Linked DNA regions of Homo sapiens: regions 1, 2, 3, 4, 5 and 6 are each reported to be linked to region 7. Evidence: microRNA targets listed by miRTarBase, many of them from high-throughput screens and not tested one by one. Region 7 holds a microRNA gene; each other region holds the end of a gene's coding sequence. Distances are from middle to middle.

Region 1 (4,075 bases), not on the chromosome of region 7:
GTGTGGAGTCCCGATGCCAGTTCTGCCACTAGCTAGCCAGGGGAACTTGCTTGGATGAAGGAGCTACATAGGCTCCCCATGTTGGTGAAACCATGATGAATGACTGGCCATAGGCAAGACAAAAATGCAGGACAAAAGAGAAACTGCAGGCTGTGAGATACAACCCAAACAAAACATTTTTCTCTGTGGTCCTCCATTTACCCCTGTGCGGTATGCTGGATCTCACTGTGTTTGCTGTTGTCCCTCCTTGCTTGAGGATGCTGTGAAGCTGAAAGTAAGGTGGAATGCTCCCACATAGTGAGAAGGGAAAAACTGGGGGCTCAGGGGAAGAAGGTGGTTGTCCATTCTCTGAGCACTCCCACTGAAAGCTCCTTTCCTTTCCTTCAGGCAGGGAAGAAGTGTCTGGCTGTGTACCAGCCAGAGGCATCCATGAACTTCACACTTGCGGGCTGCATCAGCACACGCTCCTATCAACCCAAGTACTGTGGAGTTTGCATGGACAATAGGTGCTGCATCCCCTACAAGTCTAAGACTATCGACGTGTCCTTCCAGTGTCCTGATGGGCTTGGCTTCTCCCGCCAGGTCCTATGGATTAATGCCTGCTTCTGTAACCTGAGCTGTAGGAATCCCAATGACATCTTTGCTGACTTGGAATCCTACCCTGACTTCTCAGAAATTGCCAACTAGGCAGGCACAAATCTTGGGTCTTGGGGACTAACCCAATGCCTGTGAAGCAGTCAGCCCTTATGGCCAATAACTTTTCACCAATGAGCCTTAGTTACCCTGATCTGGACCCTTGGCCTCCATTTCTGTCTCTAACCATTCAAATGACGCCTGATGGTGCTGCTCAGGCCCATGCTATGAGTTTTCTCCTTGATATCATTCAGCATCTACTCTAAAGAAAAATGCCTGTCTCTAGCTGTTCTGGACTACACCCAAGCCTGATCCAGCCTTTCCAAGTCACTAGAAGTCCTGCTGGATCTTGCCTAAATCCCAAGAAATGGAATCAGGTAGACTTTTAATATCACTAATTTCTTCTTTAGATGCCAAACCACAAGACTCTTTGGGTCCATTCAGATGAATAGATGGAATTTGGAACAATAGAATAATCTATTATTTGGAGCCTGCCAAGAGGTACTGTAATGGGTAATTCTGACGTCAGCGCACCAAAACTATCCTGATTCCAAATATGTATGCACCTCAAGGTCATCAAACATTTGCCAAGTGAGTTGAATAGTTGCTTAATTTTGATTTTTAATGGAAAGTTGTATCCATTAACCTGGGCATTGTTGAGGTTAAGTTTCTCTTCACCCCTACACTGTGAAGGGTACAGATTAGGTTTGTCCCAGTCAGAAATAAAATTTGATAAACATTCCTGTTGATGGGAAAAGCCCCCAGTTAATACTCCAGAGACAGGGAAAGGTCAGCCCGTTTCAGAAGGACCAATTGACTCTCACACTGAATCAGCTGCTGACTGGCAGGGCTTTGGGCAGTTGGCCAGGCTCTTCCTTGAATCTTCTCCCTTGTCCTGCTTGGGGTTCATAGGAATTGGTAAGGCCTCTGGACTGGCCTGTCTGGCCCCTGAGAGTGGTGCCCTGGAACACTCCTCTACTCTTACAGAGCCTTGAGAGACCCAGCTGCAGACCATGCCAGACCCACTGAAATGACCAAGACAGGTTCAGGTAGGGGTGTGGGTCAAACCAAGAAGTGGGTGCCCTTGGTAGCAGCCTGGGGTGACCTCTAGAGCTGGAGGCTGTGGGACTCCAGGGGCCCCCGTGTTCAGGACACATCTATTGCAGAGACTCATTTCACAGCCTTTCGTTCTGCTGACCAAATGGCCAGTTTTCTGGTAGGAAGATGGAGGTTTACCGGTTGTTTAGAAACAGAAATAGACTTAATAAAGGTTTAAAGCTGAAGAGGTTGAAGCTAAAAGGAAAAGGTTGTTGTTAATGAATATCAGGCTATTATTTATTGTATTAGGAAAATATAATATTTACTGTTAGAATTCTTTTATTTAGGGCCTTTTCTGTGCCAGACATTGCTCTCAGTGCTTTGCATGTATTAGCTCACTGAATCTTCACGACAATGTTGAGAAGTTCCCATTATTATTTCTGTTCTTACAAATGTGAAACGGAAGCTCATAGAGGTGAGAAAACTCAACCAGAGTCACCCAGTTGGTGACTGGGAAAGTTAGGATTCAGATCGAAATTGGACTGTCTTTATAACCCATATTTTCCCCCTGTTTTTAGAGCTTCCAAATGTGTCAGAATAGGAAAACATTGCAATAAATGGCTTGATTTTTTAATGTCATTTTTCCCTCTTATAGTCTTTCTAGCTCCTTTTCAAAAGACGAGAATATCTGATTTTCTGATAATTTAGGTGCTTAAGCATCCAAAATACATGGGACACACAAAAATCCAGGAATCCCCTGTAGCTTATTCCCTCTTTCCCATCGGAACCAGCTCTCATCACACATTTAAAAGATGATTCTGTTTACCCAATGCTGCATATTGAATGTTGTGTAGTTATTCACAGGGAATTCTGTGCAGTGTGCAGAGAGATTCCTAAACGGGAAAAGGACTGGGAATACATCCTCCTTACTGTGACCTCCCCAAAACCTAGTCCAGTGCAAGGTATACAGTGGTGCTCATTAAATACTTGATGAATACAGGAAGCTGTGCATGTGTTCCTACTTTTATTCGAAGCTCTCTTCTTCCAAAGCTACATGAAAATAGAATTTTAACAGTCAAAATTTTATATTAAGTGCCTTAGCAAAAGAGACATTTAATATTTCAAAGAAATGCATATGTATGTATACATATATTTGTGTATGCGTATGCAAGAATTCTTGTATAAAGAGAATTCACTCCATGAATGATCTCTTCTGTAAGTCAGTGTGAATCATGTTAGATTTTCTGAGAGTGAAAACACCTGCCATCTACAAATTACAAGGCTGGATAACAGCTCACTCCATTTGAAATTCAGTGGAAACCCAAGAGCTAGGTTCTTACTGAATTTGCATCTCAATTTGGGAAACTGAACTTAGCTTTCAAAGATCATAGGAAGTCTGGTTGGAGAAACTAGGGATTATTCTGGCAATGGGTGCAGGAAGGTGGTCAGAATAACCCAGTCGCCATTGGTTTTGAGAAACGGAACTATCTTATGCAGAGCCCGGAGGGCAAGTCTCAGACCCATGGGTTGAAGCCATGGAGAAGGAAATTTGGATCCAATGTAATGAAGCGCTTTCTAAGTCAGAATTTCCCTGCAATGGTGTGGCCTGATTCAATAAAAATTAAGAATAATAAATATAATGGAAAAAAATCTCCACTGATTGAGTGTTTACTTGGTGCCAAGCACTATGCTAAGTTGTTCATTATTTTATTTAATTGTTACAGCAATTTTGAGTATGCATCTTTCACTATTTTATAAGTGGAAAAGAGAAGTGCCCCCAAAAAGTTAGAGCTCAAACAGCAGCTTATTCTACCAGCCCCTGCTCTTGCGGAGGCCTCTGGAAAAGACCTGAATGACACCTATTGGAGAATTACATCTACAAGGGGCTTCAAACAGACCAAATAGATCATCACCTCTGTGGTCCCTTGTTAACTATATGTTCTGAGACAAAGGAAAGCTACCCTAAGGGTTAGTTAACCTTTGCTGAGGAAATTTACATTCATACTTAGAGTGAATTACTCAGGTGTGCTTAGGTGTGCAAAAGGGAAGGAGACCTGAATTCACCAAGTTAAATCTTGCTAAACCTTATCATAAGCATTTTTTGAGCGCTTAGCATACACCAAGCCTTGTGGAAGGTGCTTTCCTGCCATATCTCATTTAATCCTCACAGCAAACCTATAGAATATGGCATTATCATCTGAGTCTCACAGAAGTTTAGTCGTGTACTCAAGGTCTTACCAGCTAGTGAACAGCAGACCAAGACTGGAAACCCAGGATAGTCTGATACCTGAGCCATCTCTTCTTGTGCTACGCCTAGTTATTCTGTCCCCCAAATCAAAAGGCATGACCTTTATAAGAGGCGCTTTACTGACAATAGCTGCAATTTTAACTTTGAAAATGATTC
Region 2 (4,075 bases), not on the chromosome of region 7:
CAGTGAGTGGGGGGGAGGGGAGGCCCTGCTGCACCGCCGGGAAGCAGGGACCGTGATAGCCACCGTGAGCCCTGCCCTGGGGTGGGGCGGGGAGGGTACAGACCTCCCATGCACTCAGTGCACCCACTGGTTGCTGGGGTCCAGCCCTGAGGCCCAGTGCCAGGGTCAGCCTGGAGCTGTGGGAGGCCACGGGGGTGTCTGGTGGATCCAGACTTGGGTTTGTCTCTGGACTTAGTGGTTTTCAAAGCTGGGGCCCCTCCCCTTCCTCTTACTTTCTGACTTCTTTCTCCTTTCCTCTTTACTCCTCTCTCTCTCCTCTCCCCACCCCTGGGCTCTCCCATCTCCCCCTGGGGCTGACGAGGTCCCTGCCCAGCACCTCCGGTCAGCTGGCCCCCACGACACGATGTGCCAGAGCAGTGCCCGGGCCCGGCCCCCGCTGATGCACCACCCTGACCCCCGCCCGTCTCTCCCCCAGGGTGAACCAGCTGGCGATGCCGCCCGCATCTGTGAAAGTCTGAGGTGGTGAGTGCAGGCCGGGAGGCACGTGGGGGCTCCCTAAGGAAAGGGGAAGGCCAGGGTTAGGCAACAGGGAGCACTTTTCCTCCAGAGTCACCTCCTACCCCAGCACATCCCACCAACTCTGGGCTTTGTCTCTGAAGATGTTGCCAGAATTTACTGATGGAGCCATGGGTGGGACAGCAGGCTGCTCCTTCCAGTAAATTAGCTCCCCTTTCCTTCCTTTCAAGGGCTGGGTGGGGCCTCGCATAGATCAGGGCCAGGACTGGCCAGGAACTCCTCACTCTGTCCGGACTTCTGTTCTCCCAAATCCTCCTGGATGTACCAGGGCCTGACTCCTTGGCCCTTCCCTCTGGGAGTTATAGCTTCCCAGCAGCACGAGACCCAGGGTCACAGCTGCAGGTCCAGGAGAAGGCTTGCGTCTCCAAACAGCAAGAAAAGGGAAGGAGGGAGGGCAGCCTTGGCACAGGCCCCACTAAGCCCCACTGCTGACCTGACACCCCTTTCCCCAGGTGCCATTGGGACAATGAAGAACCCACACTCCCACCTCGTCTGGGAGGTGTCCTACAGCGTCCGGGACCGGCTGGGCTGCCCCAAAGCTTTCTGTGTGATCCACGGCTAGGCACCCACCCTCTCTGGCCCAGGCCTGCTGAGTGGCCCTGGCATCAAGAAGAGGCTGTGTCCTCAGTTACCCTGGAAGGATGTGTGTGTTGGAGCCACACGGTTGGACAGGTTCCCAGCCCTAGGTTTGGGCCGCAGGGCCCCTGGGGCCAAGGAAGAAGACAGCCCCAAGTGGGTGTCCGGGGAGAGCCTGGCCTGCCACCAGCTTATGTGATCTTGGGCAAGTCCCTGCCCTCCCTGGAACGAAGGGCCAGGGGGCTGGACTTTCCCACACAACTTGCTGGGCAAAGCACGATCTGCAGCTTTGAAGACTCAACAGACCCTGGACCATACGGAGAGCAGGTGGCCCAGGCCTCAGGGCGGCAGTCCCGGCTTTGAGGCTCACGCGAGGGCCTGGTATGCAGGGACCACTGCTCAGCTGGGCCTCGGACCTTGGGGATATTGGACGCAACCTGGCAAATGAAGCTGGGCGCCCAAGTCTCTGGGTACTCCCTGGAGGACACTGTCTCACTGTCTCGGGTTGGCTCCCAGCCTGGAGGTCCCAGATGGGGACTGTTCTGACAAGCTGGCATCACCAGGGGTGAAGGCCCTGGCTGCAGCTGTACACCACCTGTGCCCCCAGGCTCAAGGTCTCTGGCAGGTGCACACCAGCCCAACTCTGCAGGGCTTCTCTCCCTGCCACCACCCCCCAAGCCAGGACCCCACTCCTTCCCCGAGGCTGAGCTGAGCCTTTTCCAGGGGCAGGGCCCAGGAGACCATTCCCAGAATCCATGGGGCAGTAGCCAGGGCTCCGGCTGCTGGAGGAAGCAGCTATCCACAAAGCTTCCTGCCCCAGAGCTGAGGCTGAGGCCCCGGGAGAGGCGGCCCCTACCCAAACACTGGCTGCTGGCATTCCACCAAGTGACCCCAGGGGGGGGCCAGGCCTTCGATCACCCACCTCCCATCCATGCACACACCAGGATGCAGCTGCCAACTTCACACCAGCCCCAACCCGCTTTGGGGGAGCTTAGCCCCCTGCGTCACCCACTCCCTGCACTTCTGCTGCAATCAAGGTGGTTCTGGTGCGGGGGTGGGGTGGGGGGTGAGGCCTTGTGGCCAATGGGGGACCCCCCAAGAGCCAGCTTGGACAATGCTCTTCTTGCCCCTTAGTTACTGGCTGGCTGTGGCTTCAGTGGTGTGTAAGCAGGTGGAATACTCACCCACCAAGCTCTGGGGTACCCCGAGGGCCTGACAAGAGGATGGGGTGGGGGTGGCATCCTCCAAAGACCAGCCTCCACCCCCACTCCAGCCTCAGCGGGGCCCCAGCGATGTTTTCTTGTTGTACAAGAACCAGGTCCGAGTGTTGCCTCCTCTTCCTTCCGGAAGCCAAACTGCTCCTTTATTTTTTAGAGCTGCTGATTGTGAATCTCAGAGTCTTAAGAGAGAAGCCAAATATATTCCTCTTGTAAATGAAGAAATAAACCTATTTAAATCACCCCCTGGTGGCTCCCTCACAGCAAAAAAGCCTGGGGGCAAAGAGGTGGCAGGCACGAGAGATGGTCACACCTGCCTGCAGCCAGCACATCAACCTGCACCAACCCAGGCAAACACCAGAGCCCTGGACATGGCCCTGGAGCCAGGGTCCCAGCCCAGAACCGGGGGTGGGGAGGTCTCTGCACCCTGGGACCCCTGCAGGAATGGCTCAGGCTGTGCTTGCCAGAGCAGGATGCCCGGGCAGGCGGCAACAGCCACCCTCCCCAGTGGCAGCGCCTTAGAAACAGCTTGCGTATTAAAATCATGGTTTAAAAAAAAAAAAAAAAAATAGGCGTCTCAGGCAGATGGAGGCAGGGGCTGAGGGGGGCCCGTACCTGTGCTCAGGGCTTCCCTGCCTTCCTCACCTGTGCTTTCTTCTTGGCCCCACTCTGAAGCAGGCTGGGACTCCTGATGACCAAAGACAGCCTTGCCTTTTTCCGTGCCAGCGCGGACAGTGGTGATTTGCCCAAGACCCCCTTTTTGGGAAGAGCCTTCTGATGCTGCTTTTGGCCTGCAGGTTCCGTGGGGGACCCGGGAGCTCCATTCACCTGGGACGGCTTCTGGTTTTTCTTCTGCAGTTTTGGGGATTTGGCAGGGGTGCTGGGGCTCCGGGTGGGGGCGCCAGGGGCTGGACTCTTGGTGGTTGGCGTCCCGTTTGCCTGGGCTGGGACCTTAGCCTTTGTCCTGTTCCTCTTCTTCCTGCCCATGCTGGGGGGCTGGCTCCCGCCGGTGGCTGCAGGTGTGCCATCCTCCGCTGGCGTGCCATCCTCTGACTTGCGTTTCTTGCGCTTCTTCGTCTCTGGCAAGAATCCCTTTTTCTTCCGCTTCTTACTGATGGGGCTCTGGGTGGCACTGGGGATCTCCTTGGCATCCTTCTTCTCCAACTTGGGGCGCCTGAAGGGAAGTGAGCAAGGTTAGAAGGTGCCCATCGAGGGCAGCAGCCACCGCCACCGCGACTGCTACCTCCACCTGGATTCTGAGGGTCCTCTGAGGCCCCTAGGTTCTGTGAGGCCCCTATGAGGGTCCCGTGAGGGTCCTATGAGGGTCCTGCGAGGCCCCTGGGTCCTGCGAGGGTCCTGCGAGGCTCCTGCGAGGGTCCTGTGAGGGTCCTACAGCTCCCACATCTGAGAATGCGCTTGAGTGCATGTGTGTGCAGCAGCATGCGTGTGCAGTGTGCGTGTGCAGCAGCGTGTGTGCAGCGTGTGTGTGTGTGCAGCAGCGTGAGGGTGTTCCCAGCCCCTACCCAAGGTGTGTGTCCCCCTCCCAGAACCTACTGGACTCCCAGGGTTTTCATGGCCTGCCAGTAGAGGTCGTGCAGGCGGCTGGAGCCGGTGGAGTGTGCCCCCTGCTGTAGGCTCTGCTGTTGCCCCTGCAGCACACCCAGGAGCACCGTCAGGTCCAAGGTCAGCTTCTGCAGAGGGTGGGA
Region 3 (4,000 bases), not on the chromosome of region 7:
AGAAGTGGGATACAAGAAATTACTAGCATTTATTTCAGTGCATTTATGTAGAAGCCTTTCATCTAAATAAATAAAATAATCTTAAGTACACTTCCTCTTTCTGATAAACAATACTATAACCATTTTAGTTCTCTCAACCGGCATACTTGCAAATACAAGACAATAAATCTACAACAGTATGTATTTGAAAAACACATAAAGAAATATATCAAAGACAAGCAAAGGCCAAATAAAATGACAAAATCTGCTTTCACTTGTAGGAAGCCTCCAGAAAGAGAATATTGTATTGGACATTTTTCCATTTTGTTTTAAAATATCAGTATCTTGGCTGGCAAAAGGGTATATAAGGAAATTTTTAATACATAACTGTATCTACTTAATATTATAAAGTTTTCTTACTGAATAACTTTTCACAAAAACAAAAACTTAAATGTAGATTTAAAAAATACTCATAAAACCCTAGTTTTAGCAAAGAATTAACTATCTCCACTGTGAATTATATATAGTTCCAGCAAATGTGTACTCTTCTCCTTTTCTTCTCTACAGACAGGCCCATTAGTCATTACTTCTTTCTGTAGTTGAAAAGCACCATGTAATTTTCCCAGTTAGTGCCATAGGGACCTCCTATTAGCCCTAGGTCCACATATACGGGTTTCTTGACTTTGAGACTAGGAAATACAACAGATAAGTTATCAGAAGATGTCTTCATAATTTCAGAAAGATCTCAATTTGCTTGACTTCATTTGTTTAGAAATGAAGTAATAATACTCCTTCCATAGACATACCTAGCATTGCACTGGATATGGAATAGGCAATCAATACATGCTCATTAATAAATCCTCCAAACATCCTATAATTTGCATTTGCAATGTATTTGTTAATCTTTATGTAATAATTAATACAATGAAGATAAACGGGCACAGCTCTGTCACTCTCACAGAAACATATTAAGTTCACTGTTTATAGGCAAAAATAATTTTAGGTCTACACTAAAAAAGCAAAACAAACAAACAAAAAGCAAACGAGGTGGTTTTCACAGGATGACAAACTATATTTCAAAACTGAAAAAAAGCAAAATGTTTATATCTCACTCCTGAAACAAAAATTAACATCAGACTTAAGAAAATAAGGCAGATACTAGTAGTACTAAGTTTTCTTGAAACTGTAAAATATATATAAAAATGAAAAGATACCGAATGTGGACAGCTCCACATTGATCAACAAATGTTAACATTCTCAATCTCTTTCATTGACTTTAAAAACTATGTAATAGAAACAGAAAATGAACTAATACACAAATGAAGTACAAATATCATAATTTTCAGAAGGTTTGATTTTTCGAGTACCATAAAAAAACTGAAATATAAATATTTTGGAAATAGTTCTAAGAAATAAATATGAAAATATTTTGTTTGGTATCATAACACAGAAGCTATCCATTTTCTCAAAGTGTAAGGATTCAATTATTTTATGATTTAGTTTGTGGTCATTTGTGTTATCAATATTGCCATAAAAATGACACTTCAAAATAAAACTTACAATCTGAGATAAATAACCATAGTTCTGTTTTAGGTAAACAATCCTTGAGGCAAATATTATCCAAACGTTTCTCATATATAGATTTCTATTGCTCATCATTGTTGTTGAACATTCACTTTATAGATATTTAATTTTTTGTTTAAAATTTGTGAAAATATCAAGATATTTTAAACAATCTTTATAATTGCTAATTTTCAAAAAAGAATACTGTTCGGCTTTACTGTGGAAAAATTCATCCAAAATTAAGATATGTACTTGATATCAGGTAGTAAGACCTTTTTTCAGAGAACAGTCATATGAAGATAACTGGACAAAGCCCTGACACTCATGCAAACATGTAAGATATTACATATAGAAGACATTATGGCATCAGTGCACCAAATAACTCATCACGTATTTTAAGACAATGCTATTAAATTATGCTTTTAGATACTACATATAGAAGACATTATAATATCAGCGCACTGAATACTGATCATGTATTTTAAGATAATTCTATTAAATTATACTTTTAGAAAGAAAATTTTAGTAATTAACACCAGAGATATAATCTCTTAAAAGTGAAAAAAACAAAATATAGTTTGAATGAAACTAACATTCAAGGGTCCCCTCCAAAAGTGAAATTCTATGTCTGAAAACTAAACTTAAAATTTGTTTTTATCTACTAAGTATTTATCTTTATAAAAATAGAATATTTAATTCTTATCTAATAGTATAATTCATTTGTATATTATAAGTACTATTGGGTTTTCTTCCATAGATCATTCTTTTAAAAAAACTGACTTGATTTCTTTTTAAATGAAGATACTTTTTTTTGGCTCTTCTGAACTGGAAATAATAAAAGTGCTGTTCACCGTGAATTTAAAAAAAATACACAGTATAAACACACAACCTTGGAAACATTTTTTGAGGCACAAAATCCCTGACACACCAGAGGTACATGGAAAGACATTTAACATAAAGAGATCCTTTATATCATGTCACATCACAACTTTTAAGATTTTTCTTGGTAATACTCATGCAATATGCATAAACAATATGGTTGTGATTTCTAGCAAAATCAGATGAGATTGCAAGCAAGGAAAAACATAGGTAATCCCGGTAGGAAGAAAAGCTATTTAAGTCCTTCCTTCTTTTCCTTTAAAGCCTAAGAAAGCTGTGACTTCTTCCACACAAAAGGCTGAGGTCTAAAGCTCAAAACTAGTATAACAGTTTACTGTATTAGTTGGCTGTCAATTATTGACAGTTCCTTCATTTCACACAAGGGTTAACCTTTGTTTAGTGATGTAAATTTAGTGAGTTTTTTTCATGCAAATAAAAAATGTCTATAAAAGTCCAATAAAGGTATAACCGATTACATGCAAAACTGCAACACATCTAATTTTTAAACAATTTGCACACATTAATTTATATCACATATATACAAAATATGTTTAAACGGAAATAAAAGCATTCTCTTGAATTAAATTATAGATTTTAGTATAAAAATTTTCTCTTCGGAGGGAGCTCTCTTAACTTCCGATCTTAAGTAGTGGCTTCCCGTTTCTGCGGTGCTCGCCACAGGGGTGTGTCTCAGAGCAGGGAGGACGGGTGAGAGAAGGGTGACTGTATATAGTCCCACTCTGTAAACACTGTGGACTGCTGGCTCTTCTCAGAGAAAAGGGCACTGTGACACAGCCAATCACTGACCTCCACTAAGAGCGCGCTCCAAGTTTATGATCCAGCATTGTGGTCTACCTTGCCACGACAGCCACTTCTTTTAATAGTCTTCGATTGGAGCTAACTCTGGCATGAGGTTTACAGATATGTTTGTATACAACCTATCAACCAGTATTTTTGGCCTATATATTAAATTGTTCAGTCCATCGATGTACTGACGCTCCTTGGAATACCTTAGTAATTTATACCTATAGTTTTAGAGGAAAAAACAAAAAAGCAACAAAACATGTTCAAAAAGGAAAACTGATAAGGACTGTGTTCAAGGTCATCTTATAATTAAAGCACTTAATGCCCTTTACAATTTCTGGTTCTTGTGCATAATTTAAGAATCTCTAAACCATTATTCTAAATTAGCAATTTTACTACTCAAGAAATGCCACCTGAAAAAATTATTTTGCACTTTTACAATTAGACATCTTTAATAAATAAAACATTATGCTTTATGTTACGTAAATACTTTTACATAAATAGTTAACCGGGCTCTTTAACGTAAATATGTGTATTTATTAATGTATATATACGTATATCTCTTAAAAACAAGCATCAAAAATGCTTCCTTTTGTAAAGATTCCCTTCAGCAAAAAATACTTCCCTTCCATTATGAAAATTCCCTTCAGCAGCTTTTTTGGGGTTCAATGCATTTTTATTTACCTTTCATTTATTCAACAGCTTTGGAAACCTTGGTATCTGAAGATGACATTCAACTTACCGTCCTAAAAACTGGACTTCACCTCTATGGTGA
Region 4 (4,075 bases), 160 Mb from region 7:
TTCCATCTCTCCTAATCAAGAGCAAAGGGAACAGCAGGCCTAACAGCAGGGTTGGGAAGGCAAAAGGACTGGCACTGAACTAAGTGAAAGGGCGTCTGGTCTATTCAGAGGAAGAGGCTGGAATGGCTTAACAATAGCAGGCATTTATAAGTGCCCACCCTCACCAATGCATCGGGGGTGGTCCCTAGATATGAAAGGTGAGGAAGTCTCTGCATACTGTGATGGTACCACGGGCTGCTTCAATTGTAAGGCAAAGGAAGCAGGAAAGAAAGGAAGGGATGCATTTAGAGGCTTTTCCACACAAGCGAGTGTGCCACGCCCCTCTGGGTTTTCAGCAGTGAGGTAACCATTCAGATTTAACCATGCCAACTCTCCTCTCTGAAGCTCAAGGGGAAGAAGAAACTCAAACCCTAAAGAACCCACAAGTGTCCAGAGGGATTTCTAGGTGATCTCTCTCTTAACCCCTTTAGGGACAGGAGAGTCATTCCAGAGGACAGATGATACTATGGGAAGGATCTAGCCTTAAGACTGTCACTCAGGGCTAGAACCAGCCATTGTTTTATCCATTTAGAATTCTGTCCCCATTTAATATATTGCACAAAATCTTTCTAGGGGAGGGAAGGCATCACAAATAAGATCCTTGCACAAAAACTCACTAATGGAAAACTCCAGGGGGAACAGGAAATAAAAACCATGAAAAATGCAAACCCCAAATCAGAGTATCCTTATAGACCAGGAGATATTCGTGTCTTTTATACCACTCTGCCAGCTATTCTTCAAGAAACACAAATCCAACAGAGGCCCCTGATCCTAATGACTAGTCAGGAAAGATTCTGTCTATCCATCTGCATGGTGGGGGTTGGGGGGAAGATTCATTTCCTGACAGCTGTGTCCCTTGCTGGGTGTTTTCCTGACTATCCACAGTTTACTACCCGTTTTTCTAGGTTTATTAAGAGAGGAAGCTAGGATGATACGTTCTCCTTCTCCCCATCAGACCCTTTTCAAATCCAAAGCACCATTTTGGGGAAAAGTGTTATTAACTTATGCCATATTTACCCACTGCCAGTTGGATCAGTGAAACTGAATAGAAAAAACTTATATAAAAAACATATGCACATAGACACTTAAACTTACCTAATTCCATATCAACAAAATTTATATTAAAAAAGTCTAGAACCCAACAATTTTTCTTCCCTAAGTATAAAGATGGCTGTTTGCAGAAAGAAAGTATGGTGTATTGGTTTTAAAACCAATTACAAATATACTAAGTCACCTGTCATGCCAAACAGCTGGTTATGTGCTCCCTTCCACAGGGCTACATGACGGCACTTTATTTTAAATCCTTTAAACAAAATACATATGGCTGACCCAAAAATATCAGTTTCTGATCTAAAGAAAACTATAATTTTTGCATATATTTCTATATTTTCTCTCCTATTATGGAAACTAGAACACAAGAAAAAAAACCATTGACTTTTAAAAAGTAGACACAAGCCCTCAAGGGTAACCTGTCAGGCACCATGAGAACCTTTTGTGAACAGGAATGGTAAAATAGCCTTCAAAGCTCGTTATTGGCTTGCTATTTAAAATGATCTGAGGTAATACAAGATTTGATAGAATTAAATCTTCTAAAATAGTTGATGAATATATATGTGAAACCTAACACCTTGGGTGAGCTGTTTTTTTCCCCTATGAGTATTTAAGACACAAAAAAGAATTATTGAAGCATGTACGTTTTACAAAACCAAAATCAAATTTGCTTTCCTATTTCCTACGATGATGGATTATGTAGTCATGGGGATATGTAGGGGACATTGTTTCTTTATGTTTCCTACTGTGGACAGCTCAGGTGAAAGGGGTGAGGGAGGACAGATCCAGAAGAAAAGGCTAGGTGGATCAGGTCATCTTCCTCTCACATGGGAATTTGGCCGTTCATACATCCCCTCTTCTTGACTCTCATCACTCTAGAAAGGGGGGTGGGCTTCATTTATCTAATGGGAGGTGAGAGTCAGGGACATGAACTGGCCCCTACACAGAAGTCAACACCAGCAGGGATACAAATGGAGCTCCTGCAAACGTGGCTCCACGTTGTCCCAGTAAGGAACACTTAAAAAATCTCCTAGCAAAGTCCCCAACTCCTGAGAGGCAGATGGGAAGGGGATGCTTTGGGCAGTATTCAGGGGAAAAAAAGGCACAGGGCTTTACTGGGCAGCAGCTGGAGCATGTGGCTGAAGCGGGGCTGGAGGAAGGGGGAGTGTGCCGGGTGCGGGGGGTCTTTTTCTCGTTTAAGTTGGCAAAATGTCACAGGGGCCTCCCACTTTGGATACATATTTTCAAAATCAGAATATTTGAGAAAGGCTGGGACCTTCTCAGAGACTGGAAAAGTTGTGACACGTGGCAAAAATTAGAATCAGAAACTGGAGAGAATGTCGAAGCTGGTCCCCAGGCACCTAAGCTCAAGGTTTCTGGCCTCTGCAGGAAGGTTTTCTCAGATCATGCTAGAATGGCTCTTTGGCCTCTCCCAAGGCTTCTGAACACTCATTCCCCACCAGTCAGGTCCTGCCCTGGAGAGCCTTGGCAGATGGCTTTGAAAGCAGTGGTCACCCCAAAGAGGAGCCCACAAAAGTCTGCTTTGATGGTCTGTCTTGTCCTAGATTTGGCAGCGTCTGGTCCTCAATATCCAAGCCCAGTAAGGGGGCAGGGTCATACCCAGTTCATTCTTTTGCCACCACTTTAGGAATAAGAGAAAGCTCAGGCTTTCAGGTAAAAACTGTATACCACACATATGCAACCTTCATGGGCAAGGCTGATCTCCCTGGCACTTAAGAACCACATACACTTTACAAGATGGCAATTTAAAAGCAGAAGGTAACCTGGCAACAACAGAGAAATATTCTTACCAGCACTTAATTGCTTCAAAAGGACCCTTTTAACAAAGAAACTGGTTGGATTCTGGAACTAAATCAAGGGTTCTTTTGGGCCAAAAGGGAGAAGGATCTAAGTTTACACAATTCATCCATATCCTTTCCATTTTCTTAATCATCATAAAAAAAAAAAAAAAAAAGGAAAGGAAGGGAAGACAAAAGACAAAGAACTTTGGAGAGGTTTGAATGAAAGGGCAGAAAGAGTTAGAGGCCTACAGGCCTTTAGGTGTAAGTTTTCAAAGTGGGAAAAATTGAAAAACAATCACACTACTGGCGGATTTTATACATTCCATCTCTACCGCAACATATTTCACTTGGGGATATTTGTCTCCCTCTGAACCCTCAACTTAGCTTATAAATGGCACAGACTTGTAGGACAAAATCCAGAATTCAGGAGAGGAACATCGGGGAGAATGTGGGGTGGGGTGATGCCAAGAGGATTGTCATCATTTCTTTAAAAATGACAAGTGACTACCAAGGAGTAGATTCTACCATGACCTGAATGGGGTTTGACTGGGTCCCGCTACAAACCCCAAGTCAAGCTTAAGTTGAAATCCTTGTAAGTCTGTGCTCTTGCCTCTTCATGGTCAGGTAGAGGTTCACTTCACACACACTGCTGTTAACACAGCAGCTGACGTGACAATGAAAAGTCCCATCATCACCTCATAGATGGGATAGACGAAAATGGAAATAGGTAAAATAGGGATGAGAGTCAGAGAAAGAAAATTCAAACTGATGTCTCTAGGCTCTGTAGAGAGCTGTCCGACTGGGGGAGCTGCACTTGGTTGCAATCCACCGCATTGTTGTTTGTATTGGCATATGGAGTGACCTCACCATCCAACAGGAGCACCCTAGTCCCAAACTTAGAAGCCTTGTCAGGATTTTCCTCCTCTTCCTCATCCAGGAGTGGTGTTCGTGGCAACTCCTCCTCTATGGCGAATTCAGGGTGGGTCATGAAGCTGTGGATGGACTTTTGGTTGTAGGGTTTCTGAATGCTTTCGTGGAGGGAACTATGGAACGCTTTGACCACTTTGATCTATACCAGGGGAAGGAAAAGGAGGATGAGAAAATAGAGAGGTGAGAATTGGCCGGCAGAACAAGGAGATGGTGGATTTAGGAGAGAAACAAAACCCAGACTATAAAACATGACT
Region 5 (4,075 bases), 2.7 Mb from region 7:
CCCAGGAGGTAGAGCTTGCAGTGAGCTGAGATTGCGCCACTGCACTCCAGCCTGGGCAACAGAGTGAGACTCCATCTCAAAAAATCTCCCAGTGGTGTGGCTGGAAACACTGAGGTCCAGTGAGGGCATGGAGCTTACACAAGTCCCACGGCAAGCCAGCAGCACAGCTAGAGCTATGGCCAAGTCCTGAACTCTCAGTTTGCCCCTTCCTGGGGAAGGCTGTTATCTGAAATGCTGGGAGGCTCTGGAGTCACACACCCAGGTCCTAATCCAAGCTCTGCCACAAGTTACTGTGCAACTTTAGGTTAGCTAATTAACCTTTCTGAGCTACAGTTTCCTTCATGGAAATAATGATACAGAGCACCCCTACCTACATGGCTTGTTATAACAATTGAAAGAAAGAATCTAGGTAAAATCCATAGGATCGTATCTAACACACCTCAAGTGCTCAGTAAATTATTGTGTGAAATCAGTCTTGAGTTCTGGCTCCCTCTGCTCCATCTGTGCCCTGCTGAAACGTGTAGGTTCCTAGGCCTGCTGCACAGTCCTGGAGTCAGGGAGGTGGCTCACTCCCTCCCTCTCTTCCTCCTGGCAGGTGATCGTCTGGGGAGACTATGGCCGCATGGACCACAAGTGCTTCATGGGCATGGCCCAGATCATGCTGGACGAGCTGGACCTCAGCGCCGCGGTCACCGGCTGGTACAAACTCTTCCCCACCTCCTCAGTGGCAGACTCCACACTCGGATCCCTCACCAGGCGCCTGTCCCAGTCTTCCCTGGAGAGTGCCACCAGCCCCTCATGCTCTTAAGGATGTCAGGAAGAGGCCAGGATGGTGGTGTGGGGAGGGGTGCCTGCTGGCCCCATGTCCTCCCCTGTACATAGTCTTCGTGTCTTTCTGGACCCCTTGTCCTGCTGCATGCCTGTTGGCTACTGGGCTCATCCCAGCTGGCAGTGGAGACTGTAGTGTGTGCGTGTGTGCGTGCGTGTGTGTGTGTGTGTACGTGACCACGTTCTATCTGTTCATTTGTCTGGGTATAGTCACTCCTGGTGATGATATGGGCTGAAATGTCTCCACGTCTCTTTGTGTCTTGTTGAAAAGAAACCCAAAGGAGTGTTGTGTGGACATGACTCACCCTGAGGAGTCTCCAGGGATGGAGGTGGGGCATGCGGCCACTGGTCGGTGCTGCCTGGTCCTGGCCTGGGGCAGAGCCTGTGTGTTCTTCACCTGTGCCTGCTCCTGGTGGTCTCTGCTTTGTTTTCTGTCTTGTCTTTTGTTCCACTCTTGACTCTCCCGGCTCTGCCACTGTTTTCTGAGAAATGTAGCATCCGCTGCAGCTGGCCACACTGAGGGCCCTCTGGGAACCCCACCCCACTGGAGCCGCTCCGGCAGCTCTTCCTGCCACTGAATGCGTTCTGCAGCATGTAGCATGCCCACCTAGCTCCCTGGCCAGGGCCCTGGGGAGGCAGAGGGTACCCAGGGGACTGAGGGCTTAGAAATGACTTTCTCTATGAGGCTGGAACCTCCTCCTTCTTCCAGTGAAGCACGAGGTCTTGGTTCCAGGGTTCCTGGCCAGGTGCCCCCTTAGCATTTGTTCTTCATCTCCTGTCTCTTCAAGCCTCCCCACTCCACCGTGCCGAAGGAGCTCTGCCAGTGGGCCTGGGCAGGCAGCCACAGAGGGCATGTTATCTGCTAAAGCAAACAGTCCTCCTGAGGCCCTGAGGGTGGCCCTGACCCCCTCAGGGCTCATTCCTGGTGGGCATGACTCGGTAAGGAGGTTCTGTGGGTAGGGCTGTTTGCTGGAATAAGGAGGGCTGAGGCTGAGTTGTTCCCCGCCACTGTTGAGGATCCCATCTGACATTTGGGGATTCACTGCATGAAGTTGTTCATTTGGGGCTCCAGTTTTTGTGCATTTCCAGACCAGGGTCCCTGTCTGGGAGCTCAGACTTAGCTGGGCTCCAGCAGCCTGGCTCCGGACTCTCGTCTGCCACCATCACCAGCTCTGTCTAAGCAATACTTACCCCTCCGGGCTTCCCTGCTTTCCTGTGCCCCACTGCTGCCCTCTGCAGAGCCATCTGCTCCAGGCACCCACCTGCCTCTGCTTGCTTTCTCACCCATGTCTGGTTGGAGCTTCTCACAGCCACTCAAACCCTGACTTGATTTGACAACTGGGCCCTGTTGGTGGAGACCAGTGCCTGAACTGGACCCTGTGAAATCTGTCCCGTGGGAATCCTGAAGTCTGACTCAGGAATGCCCAGACCTGTCCCTGTCCCTCCTCAGCTCTAGGGTGAAAGGCGAGAGGTTGCACAGGACATGGACAGAGCAGCCCTTGGGTTTGTATCTGGTAGGGGAGAAAGCAGCAGGACAGTGGAGGTGTGTGGAAGGCACTCTTTCCACCTCTCTCCAGGCATTATCCCCAGGTGCTGAAATGGCTGTGGCCCCAGCACCTGAGGCAGGGGTACGCTACCTGGGGTAGCAGTAGAAAGGTCTTGGGGTCTGAATGACTTGGGGCCTCCATTCATAACCAAAGTTGTAGGGGCATGGAGGCAGTGGCGCCTTATGGATAGGTCATCTCAGCCCAAAGGGCCTCCTTGGCTGGCATGGTTCTGTGTTACGTTGAAGCCAGAGTCTTATAACACCTCCCAAGAAAGATAGGGGAAGAAGCCAGAACCCCACCTGGCCTGCCCACAGGACAAGAAGTGGGTAAGGGCAGGAAGGAAATGAACGGAGTTAGCTCCCAGGCTCCTATCTCTGCCTGAGCCTCTATTCTTATATTATCAGAGAAAGGGACCATTGGGTGCATAGAGATGGGGAGGAGGCCACTGGGCTGAATTTTCTCTTTAGGCGGAAATGCTCTCCCCAGGCCCATTGCGTTCGTCAAGTTCTTGGAAATGGACAAAGGGCTCTGTCCTCCTCGACCCTAGTGGGGGATCAAGAAGGAAACTCCGTTGCAAAAGGGTATTTTAATCTCCTGTTTATGATATATTCACCTCTAGAGCAGTCACTGTCAGGGTGTTGCGAAAATACTCTACACCTTTGGGATGATAGGGTTGTTAGTGACCCACAGGACAGTATAGATGTTTGTGGATGTAGCACTGAGTGGTGATACCCAGACCAGCAGTCACCCCAGGAAGTGGGGGCTACCCATACCCTCATTCCTCTGGTGGGGAGCTGCCTGCAGAGAGGCCTGCCACTGGGGGTTCCAGGCCGTGGTGACCCTTGCCTCTGGGGAAGGGTTAGCACAGGGGAGGTTCTAGCTGGAGGAGGGGTCTGATGTGCTGGTAACTTGGGCTGACCTACCTACAGTCCCTGGCTGCCAAAACTGCTCAGCAGTTGGGCCACTCCACTATTCCACCTCTCTAAAAGAAGGTAATTTCCTCCCCAAATTGACCTTGGGGAATTATTCTTTTAACCCTTTGCACCAAATAAGTTACTCATCCCCACCTGGATTTTACCCCATGAGGGTAAAGTTGTGTGAGGCTGACACGTCTGTGTGATGCAGTGTGGCTGCACTTAAGGGTCTGTTTCTCAGCATCATGGATGCAGGGGCTTGTCTGAAAAGCCACTCTGGACCTAGCCTGTCCCAGAAGAGGAGAATGCACAAGTGTAACTCCTGGTTGTTTGCTGGGGTGGGGGAGCATCTGCTGTTTGAGGACGGGGGGTGGGGAAGGAAGGAACATGATCCCTCCAGAAGTCTCCCACCCTGGGGCCAACTCACTGCCATGTTCAGTGTCCCGGCTCCAAATGCCCCCTTGCCCAGATGAAACCCTGCAGTGGTTACAGGAATGGAGCTCTTTGTCATTCCACCTCCTCTGGTCAGGCGAGGTTCACTGTGCATATGGCAGAGACAGGAGTGGCCCTGCAGTGATGTTGGGTTGTGGGCAGGGACAGTGATGGATGACTCAGAGCGTCTGTCTTTGTATTTCTGCTCTGTTCATTCTGTCCCACTTTCTTCATAGACTCCTTTTCCCTGCAATGGGTTTTTGGTATGAAAAAGGCTCCAGTAAATGGAGCCAAGTCTTGGTTTGACAAGGGGAACTTGATCCTTCAGGGAAGAATCATCTCCAAAATGACTCC
Region 6 (4,075 bases), not on the chromosome of region 7:
CGGCCGTGCCATAGGGTCGGGGAGAGCACCCCCACCAAGAAGCTGGACGTGGGGTGAGGTCCAGTGCTCACTCGTGGGTGTGGCTGCATTTGGCACTACATGGGCTCGCTTCACTCTGGGAAGGCGCGGCGTGGCATCCTCTTCCTTGTTTGGACCCAGCTCACAGGGCCATGGAGACTTTGGGGCTGGAGAGAGTGGGCAGGGCCTTTCCAGTCTAAGGGTCTGAGGCAGTGTCTCAGGGTCCCGGCCTCAGTGGCCACATGGCTGTCCTCAGCTGGCCTCTGCCCCTCCACCTGGTGGCTCCCGGGAGCTACTCTGACACGCTGGTGGCAAAACGTCAGAGCTGCCCCTGTGCTGACTCGAGTCCTTAGCAAAGAGACAGGGCAGGACAGATGCTGGGCCCTCCACCGCCCAACGGACTTAGGGTCCAACCGCCATGCCGCCGGCAGATGCGCCAAGTCCTGGTCCACACACAGGGACCCCTTCCCGGCGCCCCTGGGCAGCAGCTCTGGGGGTGGGGTCTGGGCCAGTCATTGCTGCTCCTGAGACCCTGTGCATTGGGGACACCTTCAGACCCACGTGGTGCGGTGGCTTGTCAGGGCTGCCACCGCAGACTGCACACCCAAGAGGCCGTCAGGAGCCTGGGCACAGAGGTGCACGCACGCAGCAGTGGGCTCTTCTCTCTGCAGGTTTTCACACAACAGAAACCACCTGACATCCACCCGCTGAAGCGCACTGCTGTTCAGATAGGGGACGGAAGGTCGTTTGTTTTTGTTCTGAGCTCCATAAGAACTGTGCTGACTTGGAAGGTGCCCTGTGCTATGTCGTGCCTGCAGGGACACGTCGGATCCCGTGGGCCTCACATGCCAGGTCACCAGGTCACCGTCTCCTTCCACCCCTGCAGTGTGCTGTTGTGCACGTCAGGGACGCTGTTCTCTATGCCCACTGCCCTCCTCCCTCTCCTGGCCCAGCAGTATTGCTCACGGGGGCTCCAGCCGCCGGCGTGGCCCTCATGAGCTACGCCTGGGTCTTCTGCAGACTCATGCAGCCCTATGGCCGCTCAGACCAAGGCGCAGAGCAACTATCAGGGCAGCTCTGCCTCCTCCTCCCATGAGGTGGGGAGAGGCAACAGGGCAGCCCCCAGAGGAGTGTCCTGGCCGCTGTCCTCCCGGGGCCCATGATGGCCATAGATTTGCCTTGTGGTGTTGGATCAGGTACTGTGTCTGCTCATAAGTACTTGTGTCATCCAGAATGTTTTGTTTTTTAAGAAAATTGAATTACTTGTTTCCTGAAATATTCTGAGGTTAATATGTTAGTTTTCATAGAACATTGAGAGGCCCCTGCCACTTTCAATAAAGACCTGACTTGGAGACATGCAGGTGTGTGTGGTGGGGCCCGGGCCATGCGGGGCTGCAGCGTCCCTGGTCCCGAGTCCTCATCACAGCACGCAGAGACGGCAGCCCAGCCCCCCTTCGAAACTTCCCTGTGACGGATTCCTGGGCTCTGCTTGGCCCACCGGAAGAACAGAGCAGGCAGAGGAGAATGCAGGTGGGGAGATGCTGTTTGTTTATTTTTAATCAAATGTGTGTGAACAAAGCAGTCGCCCATCTACTTCCCGTTGGAAGGAATGCTGGGCAGTAATAAATTAGACGGCCCCACCCTCCCAGGGCACAGGGGGACTTTGGTTTCTGCTTCTCTAGAGGTACATGGGGAACAAGCGTGGCTTCTGCCAGACTTGTTTAGCTGTGACCTGCAGGGCAGGCCCCTGGGGCTGCCACTTGGTTCACCAGATGGAAGGTCAGCATGGCTGTGCCACGCTTGTCTGAGAGGGTCCTGGCAGTGGGTACGCAGGGTGTATGGCAGGGCCTCTTTTCCAGTGCTTGCTCTAGGCCAGTCCTCGGCAGGGACCCTGCTCTGGGGAGAGAGGCAGGGTGTGCCCAGGCTTTGGTCCGATGCCGAGAGCACTGCTCAGGCCTTGTCTGCGTCTTTGAGCCAGGGGCCTGGGAGCTGTGGCTTGAGCGGCTCCGCGCTCAAGACTCGCACATTTTTCCCAGGGCCCCAGATAGCTGCTGGCATGCACTAGGTCCTGGGTGGGGGGATGAAGCCCCTCCCAGATGTTACATGAGGCCCACCCACACTGCTGGTGCCAGTGGGGATCCAGTGAGACCACAGCCACTTCCCATCTGTTGAGAAGCCTCAGGACAGAGGTCACCTCTGTGTCCTGCTGTTCTTTGTAGTTGTGTCCAAACCTGGGCAGGTTGAGCGTCATTCCTCCTTCCCCCTGACCATCCCCTCCAGCCCTGAGGAGGGTTGGGGGCCATCCTGCACGATGCTTGGGGCCCTCCCGGCTGAGCTGCTGGCCCCCTGGATCACCTCCATCCACCTGGAGGAGAGGGCGGCCATCAGACCAGTGAGCCATCTTGTGCTCAGACACTGTCCCAAGAACAACCCAGGATATGGGACAAGCAGGACAAAAGAAGGGTTAAAAACCTGGGGCCGGGTGCGGTGGCTCATGCCTATAATCCCAGCACTTTGGGAGGCTGAGGCAGATGGATCACTTGAGGTCAGGAGTTCGAGACCAGCCTGGCCAACATGGTGAAACCCTGTCTCTACTAAAAATACAAAAATTAGCCAGGCGGCGTGGCGTGCATGCCTGTAATCTCAGTTACTCAGGAGGCTGAGGCAGAAGAATCGCTTGAACCCTGGAGGTGCAGGTTATAGTGAGCCAAGATTGTATCACTGCACTCCAGCCTGAGTGACAGAGGGAGACGCCATCTCCAAAAAAAAAAAAAACAAAGCATTGCTGTTTTTTGGAAATGCTGGAAGCATTGCTCAGCCCTTCCTTTCCAGGGCCCAGAAAACTTGCCTCCACCACCATGAGTAGAAATGGGAGCTGAGCGGACATCGAAATGGGCAGCTGACCAGGGCTGCCTCCTGCAAAATTACCTTTCAAATGTGTACTTGCTCTCAGCCCGGAAGAAGTAGACGTGGGATTTGAACTGGAGCTTGAAAACATAGTCTTTGTGTATGCCATCGGCCTCCCTGGGGATGCTCACGCTGTAGCCCAGCAGCGGGAGGCTGGCCAGTGGGTAGTCATCCTGCAAGACAGCATAGGGACACGGGTTCCAGGGGCTGGGTTGCCACAGGGAATGCCCATTCCTCTGCTACCTGCACAACGGTGGCACGTACAAATGCCCACGGGCCAAGGGAGCCAGTTTCCCTGTTCACACAGCACAGGGTGTGTGGGCAAAGCATGGGAGGGCAGAACCAAAATACAAAAGGGACACAGGTGAGCAGGGTTAAGTGTCTGTCTGCTAGCATCACCTGCATTGGGCTCCAGTGAAACTCCAGTACCTGATGAGTTTTGTAGAAGAACAAACAGAAGTTGGTAAAGACGACCCAGAGCTTCTGCCAGCCATGACTGTTTTTGAACTTTCTTAGCAGATATCCTGAAAGCTGGTTCTGTCAATAAAGGAAAAATGCAGGTGCATTAACCAGCACCCAGGACCCCTTGTGGGAGTGGGTTTGCTCCCCAAGACTAAGCCTCTGCATGCTTTCTCCAGCTGAGGCCTTGGTTTTACCTCTGGACTGCTATGAACAGCAGCTTTATCAGTACTTAAGTCCAACAGAAGCATGTTAAAAACCTAGAGTGACATTCCAGGCACCAAGTAAAGTGAGTTCCCTTTCCCTGTGCACAATAAAGTCAGTGTTCAGTAACCAACCATCCACAAACCCATCCAACAGCCAGAAGAGAGAAGATACCTTAAGAGACAGTACATTGAGCCAAGTCTGGAAGGTTCTTTAAAATGATGGGTGGGGGAGAGGCAAGTAAAGGCACACACAAGATGCCCCACTGCAGCCCTGTCCCTAAGCATGTGGCATCTGTTCTGCCAGGATTAGGCATGGCTTTGGCGCTGGAGTGGCTGGGCTCATGGGGCTCACATGAGCCTCCCGCCTTCAGGGTGGTATTCAGGGGTTGCACTCTAAGATGGCGGAGCGGGCCTAGCTAGGACCCTGCTTAGATCTCAGGTGTCCTGGACTGGCCATAAGCTGGTGGGCCCAGGTCAGGGACCTG
Region 7 (4,070 bases):
CATGAGGTCAGGAGATAGAGACAATCCTGGCTAACATGGTGAAGCCCTGTCTCTACTAAAAAACACAAAAAATTAGCCAGGCGTGGTGGCAAGCACCTGTAGTCCCAGCTACTCGGGAGGCTGAGGCAGGAAAATGGCATGAACCCAGGAGGCGGAGCTTGCAGTGAGCCAAGATTGCGCCACTGCACTCCAGCCTGGGTGACAGAGCAAGTCTCAAAAAAAACAAAAAGGTAGGTGGGTGGCCCAGTGCCTCCTTTATGGCTATGGCTGCATCAGCATTCGTATGTACTGTTCTCATTTGCTCCAGGTCACACATCCCGGGTCCTGAGTCTGACCATGAGCCCAGATGGGGCCACAGTGGCATCCGCAGCAGCAGATGAGACCCTGAGGCTATGGCGCTGTTTTGAGTTGGACCCTGCGCGGCGGCGGGAGCGGGAGAAGGCCAGTGCAGCCAAAAGCAGCCTCATCCACCAAGGCATCCGCTGAAGACCAACCCATCACCTCAGTTGTTTTTTATTTTTCTAATAAAGTCATGTCTCCCTTCATGTTTTTTTTTTAAATCTGTTTCAGCTAATGCCTTTCTTCTTTCATGACCTATGTCCCAGCAGCCTTCCTAGGGGCTCTACTCTACTGGGATCAGAGAGCTAGATATGTCCTGTGGGAGCCTGGACCATCCATCCCTCTTGTTTGTGGACAGGGCTAAGCGTGTTGTGTTCCCCCACCTCCTCTGTTCACATACGTATACACACAGCCTCCGTGGTTTCCTCTGTCACTTTTAATTAAGACACAAGTTGAGTAAGCAGCCTCCACAGGCTGTATTCCCAGGCCCCCGCCCACCCTGACCTTTGGCCCAGAAGCTACTGCTTCAGTGTGTGGGGTGGAGGAGTGAGACTGGGTCCACAGTGACATTATTGCTGACCTCTTCTGTGTGAGGAAAAAGGCCACGAGACCCTTTGTGGGGCCAGCCCTGAGTGCTCCTCTCCCAAGTTTTAAGGCAGGGAGGGGGAAATAACTGTACAGCCCTTTTAGCCCCCAGCTCTGGAGTGGCAGACAGCAATGAGGCCACATCCCTGGAGCTGCCCGGGGGAAGTGGGTGAGGAACCAAAGCCGTGGTCCCTGTAGAGCAGCTGTGGGGAGGGGAGGGCCAGTCCCCTGCTCAGTCCTGACCACATAAGCCTTGGTCACAGGTGTAGGTGGAGAGGGCACTGACGGACACTGCCCTAAGGTGCAGTCCTGAGGCACTTAGGTGGGCGCCTATCTAGGCCATGCTTCTCAGTTGGCCTTGACCTTGGCAATACCTGGAGCTCCATTTTGCTGAAGTGCACGGGGCAGCCGCTTGCCCTTGGTATAAGAGTGATACCAGAAGTTGGAGAACAGCATGAAGAAGATGGTGCCATACATCCAGATGAGGTGAATAATGACTGGGTACTGGTAGTTACAGCTGGACATAAAGTAGTACTGGGAGATGTGCAGTGAGACCAGGACAAACTGGATCTAGGATAGAGAAAGACCAGGGTCAGAGGGAATAGTGAGAGGACTAGAGGGGAAGAGGGGGTAGAGAAAGAGACAAACGTTGAGTAGGGAGAGATGGGGTCAAAGGTGAGACAGACTGGATAAAGGCAGGATCCAGGCTAGGAATGTGGGGGGATGGTTATAGGTAAGTCAGGCCAAGCCCCTCACCAGCTGAATGGCTGTCATGTGCTTTTTCCACCAAAGGTAGGGTTGTGCCACAGGGCCAAAGGCAGATAATCCGTAGTACAGGTACATTATGACATGCACGGAAGAGTTTATCATGGCATGGAAAGAGCCCATTCCTCCTGTGAGTGGACAATAAGACAGGGTCAGCAGAGTCCAGCCTCTGGTGCCCACCCTTTCCCATAGTGGCCTTCACCACTCACCCGGGGCAATCTTTACCCCCCACCACCAGCTCCAGGGAAGCACAGAGTGATGGAAGACATGTAGGAAGGTCACCTGCCCGTCTTTCTTTCGGAGAATAAAGATCACCTGAGAGAAGAGTGAGGGAAGGGGATTCAGAACCTGGGCTTCTCCACCTCATTCTCCCCTCAAGTTCTCACATCTCATATAACTACTCACTGTGTCCATCAGCTCAATGAACTTGGAGAAGAGGAAGAGCCAGGCCACCCGAACCATCTGCAAGAAGTTGGGATAGCCTTAGGACCTCATACACTATTCTAAGAGCCTCCCTAAACTGGGCCTTGAGCACAGGCCCCAAACTGGTCATATCTACCAGGTTGCTTATGACCTAGCCCCAGCCCCTACTTACCCTAAGTGCCTCAGGGCTGTTGGAATAGTCCACAGGGTCACAGCGCCAGGTATAGGTGCTCAGCCAGCCCGACATCAGGAACTGGGAAGGGATGTGGATTAGACCACCAGAGTTCTCCCTTCCCAGCCATCCCTCCCCTTCGCTAGCTGAGGACATGGATCTGAACCTCTCTGGAAAGGAGAAATGCCATGCTCTGGCTCTATGGCCTGCTCCTTATCCTGCTGACAGAAATTAAAGCCCGGCATCCCAGGGGCCCACCTCATAGACAATGTAGAGGGAGAGTGCCACCAGTGAGAAGTTGTAGACAATCATGAAGCCACGGAGCTGGAAGGGCTTCCGATTAGCCATGATGCGAGGCCCAAGTGAGAGAACGAAGTACACGTAGGTCAGGAGAATGGAGGTCATTAGCAAGGGGGACCCCATCAGAGGGTAGCCCTGGATCCGGGGATCTATGAATAAGGGTCAAAGGAATCAGGAAGAGTCACAGGGTTCGAAGGGTCTTCATTTGAAGGGTCTACAGACATGAGGTCAGGTCACAGGATCAAGGGTTTCATAGGAACTCTCCATTAGAAGACAGCCGTAGATCCAGGGATCCCGGGAAAGAAGGAAGGAAAGGGCTGGTGGATAGCGTCTTACCTGCGTGCTTCATCACCTCTTGGTACAAGTTCACAACAGCCTCCATCCTGGCTAAGGACTCTGGGGAGGTACAGAGGGCGGATGTCAGACAGATCCCACTGCACACCCCCATCCCACAGAGATAAGACACAGAACCAGACAAGACACCTGCAATGCCTCATTGCAGAAAGGACAGAACAGTGAAAGGAAGGAATTACTGGGAACTAGGGGGAGGAGGCAGTTTGGTTGAGGCATCTGCTCCCCACACATCCTGCTTGCCTGGGAAGAGCTGTTCCACCCTTCCTCTCCACACCTTACTCTCCTCTCCTCTCCACAGTTTTACTTCCTGGCCTCCCTTCCCCTCTTCCTCCACAAGATAACTCTCAATTCCAGGTCTCTTACTGGAGAATCTTACCTTCTCACCAACAGGGAGCTCTTGAACTCCGTCTCCCTTCCTCACCCGAGTCCCTCACCTCCCCAGCTCTGGGTCTTTCTTCTCTCCAGGGATTCTCCCCTTCAATCTCTCCTCTCCTGCCCTCTCCTCTTCCCATCCCTCTGGACCCTTCCTGAACTCTCTTCTCCCCAGGGTCCCTCCTGTCCCTGCCAGGACTCTCACCTCTCTGGGCCCTTCTGTCCCTCCAGAACCTTATCCTCGGATTCCTCCTTGCCTGTGCTGGGACACTTATGTCCCTACGATTCTCCTCTGCCTTTCCTGGGACTCTCACCTCCAGCCTCTCCTCTCCAGCGCTCTCCTCTCTCCTCTCGCAGAGCCCTTCCTCTCCTGGAGCCTGGCTCTTTGAGACTCCTGCCCCGGCGGCTCCACCTGTCTGACTAGATCTGGCAGCAGCCCCGCCCTCTGCCCGCCCCTGCTGTACTGTGCAGGGGGTGGAGGGTGGGTCCGGGCCACAGGTCAGTGCCTGGGGGAGCAGGACCCACCAGGATTGGGAAAGCCAAGTAAAGCCCCAGACTCGCCACCCACCCACCCACGTGGGACCAGCCTGATGAGCTAAGGTCCTAGATTCTGAGCCAGAAACCTCCTCTGACCCCAGCCCCAGCCCCAGCCCTGGCCCAAAGCACTGCTGAAAATCCACACCCAGCATCCTCTCCTAAGCCGGCCATAACTGCTCAGTTTGTCCTACTTCAGAATGGGTACAATCACTCTTCCCTTCCT

The links. Region 7 holds the annotated microRNA hsa-miR-6734-3p (CCCUUCCCUCACUCUUCUCUCAG, at 2,005-2,027, opposite strand). A microRNA usually pairs through its seed, bases 2 to 8, with sites in the 3' UTR of a target mRNA and lowers its output. Matches are read on the target gene's strand: a 7mer-m8 pairs with bases 2 to 8, a 7mer-A1 pairs with bases 2 to 7 and ends in A, and an 8mer does both.
Region 1: the mRNA of CCN4 is a reported target of hsa-miR-6734-3p. Seed matches in the 3' UTR shown: 8mer at 3,715-3,722.
Region 2: miRTarBase lists SPNS2 as a target of hsa-miR-6734-3p. Seed matches in the 3' UTR shown: 7mer-A1 at 1,212-1,218.
Region 3: the mRNA of B4GALT6 is a reported target of hsa-miR-6734-3p. Seed matches in the 3' UTR shown: 7mer-A1 at 2,663-2,669 and 7mer-A1 at 769-775.
Region 4: the mRNA of ATP2B4 is a reported target of hsa-miR-6734-3p. The part of its 3' UTR that is shown has no 7-base or 8-base seed match.
Region 5: the mRNA of RIMS3 is a reported target of hsa-miR-6734-3p. Seed matches in the 3' UTR shown: 7mer-A1 at 2,711-2,717, 7mer-m8 at 3,227-3,233, 8mer at 3,663-3,670 and 7mer-A1 at 3,668-3,674.
Region 6: miRTarBase lists STK25 as a target of hsa-miR-6734-3p. Seed matches in the 3' UTR shown: 7mer-A1 at 1,621-1,627.

What each region holds. Positions count from the first base shown.
Region 1 is chr8:133,227,024-133,231,098 of GRCh38, forward strand. CCN4 (cellular communication network factor 4) reads left to right here. Exons shown (of 5, transcript NM_003882.4): 5 at 388-4,075. The coding sequence ends at 687. Among named protein-coding and RNA genes, the nearest start is that of CCN4, 38 kb to the left of the region's middle.
Region 2 is chr17:4,536,425-4,540,499 of GRCh38, forward strand. SPNS2 (SPNS lysolipid transporter 2, sphingosine-1-phosphate) reads left to right here. Exons shown (of 13, transcript NM_001124758.3): 11 at 1-2; 12 at 476-522; 13 at 1,029-2,611. The coding sequence ends at 518. It overlaps MYBBP1A (MYB binding protein 1a), which reads right to left. Exons shown (of 26, transcript NM_014520.4): 25 at 3,924-4,060; 26 at 2,480-3,543. The coding sequence ends at 2,991. Among named protein-coding and RNA genes, the nearest start is that of MYBBP1A, 17 kb to the right of the region's middle.
Region 3 is chr18:31,622,316-31,626,315 of GRCh38, forward strand. It overlaps B4GALT6 (beta-1,4-galactosyltransferase 6), which reads right to left. Exons shown (of 9, transcript NM_004775.5): 8 at 3,968-4,000; 9 at 1-3,446. The coding sequence ends at 3,299. Among named protein-coding and RNA genes, the nearest start is that of TTR, 32 kb to the left of the region's middle.
Region 4 is chr1:203,739,431-203,743,505 of GRCh38, reverse strand. ATP2B4 (ATPase plasma membrane Ca2+ transporting 4) reads right to left here. Exons shown (of 21, transcript NM_001684.5): 21 at 1-3,960. The coding sequence ends at 3,652. The region is part of intron 1 of LOC102723543 (a long non-coding RNA gene); the gene reads left to right. Among named protein-coding and RNA genes, the nearest start is that of LINC00260, 11 kb to the right of the region's middle.
Region 5 is chr1:40,623,250-40,627,324 of GRCh38, reverse strand. RIMS3 (regulating synaptic membrane exocytosis 3) reads left to right here. Exons shown (of 8, transcript NM_014747.3): 8 at 596-4,075. The coding sequence ends at 808. Among named protein-coding and RNA genes, the nearest start is that of RIMS3, 40 kb to the left of the region's middle.
Region 6 is chr2:241,492,316-241,496,390 of GRCh38, reverse strand. STK25 (serine/threonine kinase 25) reads left to right here. Exons shown (of 12, transcript NM_001271977.2): 12 at 690-3,721. The coding sequence ends at 729. FARP2 (FERM, ARH/RhoGEF and pleckstrin domain protein 2) reads right to left here. Exons shown (of 27, transcript NM_014808.4): 25 at 3,355-3,462; 26 at 2,947-3,098; 27 at 1,550-2,383. The coding sequence ends at 2,266. Among named protein-coding and RNA genes, the nearest start is that of STK25, 14 kb to the left of the region's middle.
Region 7 is chr1:43,362,644-43,366,713 of GRCh38, forward strand. It overlaps MIR6734 (microRNA 6734), which reads right to left and starts at 2,072; the gene lies at 2,005-2,072. It overlaps CDC20 (cell division cycle 20), which reads left to right. Exons shown (of 11, transcript NM_001255.3): 11 at 308-560. The coding sequence ends at 486. It overlaps ELOVL1 (ELOVL fatty acid elongase 1), which reads right to left. Exons shown (of 8, transcript NM_022821.4): 2 at 2,921-2,980; 3 at 2,543-2,733; 4 at 2,285-2,365; 5 at 2,095-2,151; 6 at 1,899-2,004; 7 at 1,681-1,817; 8 at 758-1,494. The coding sequence starts at 2,966. The coding sequence ends at 1,273. RefSeq lists a silencer at 3,668-3,757.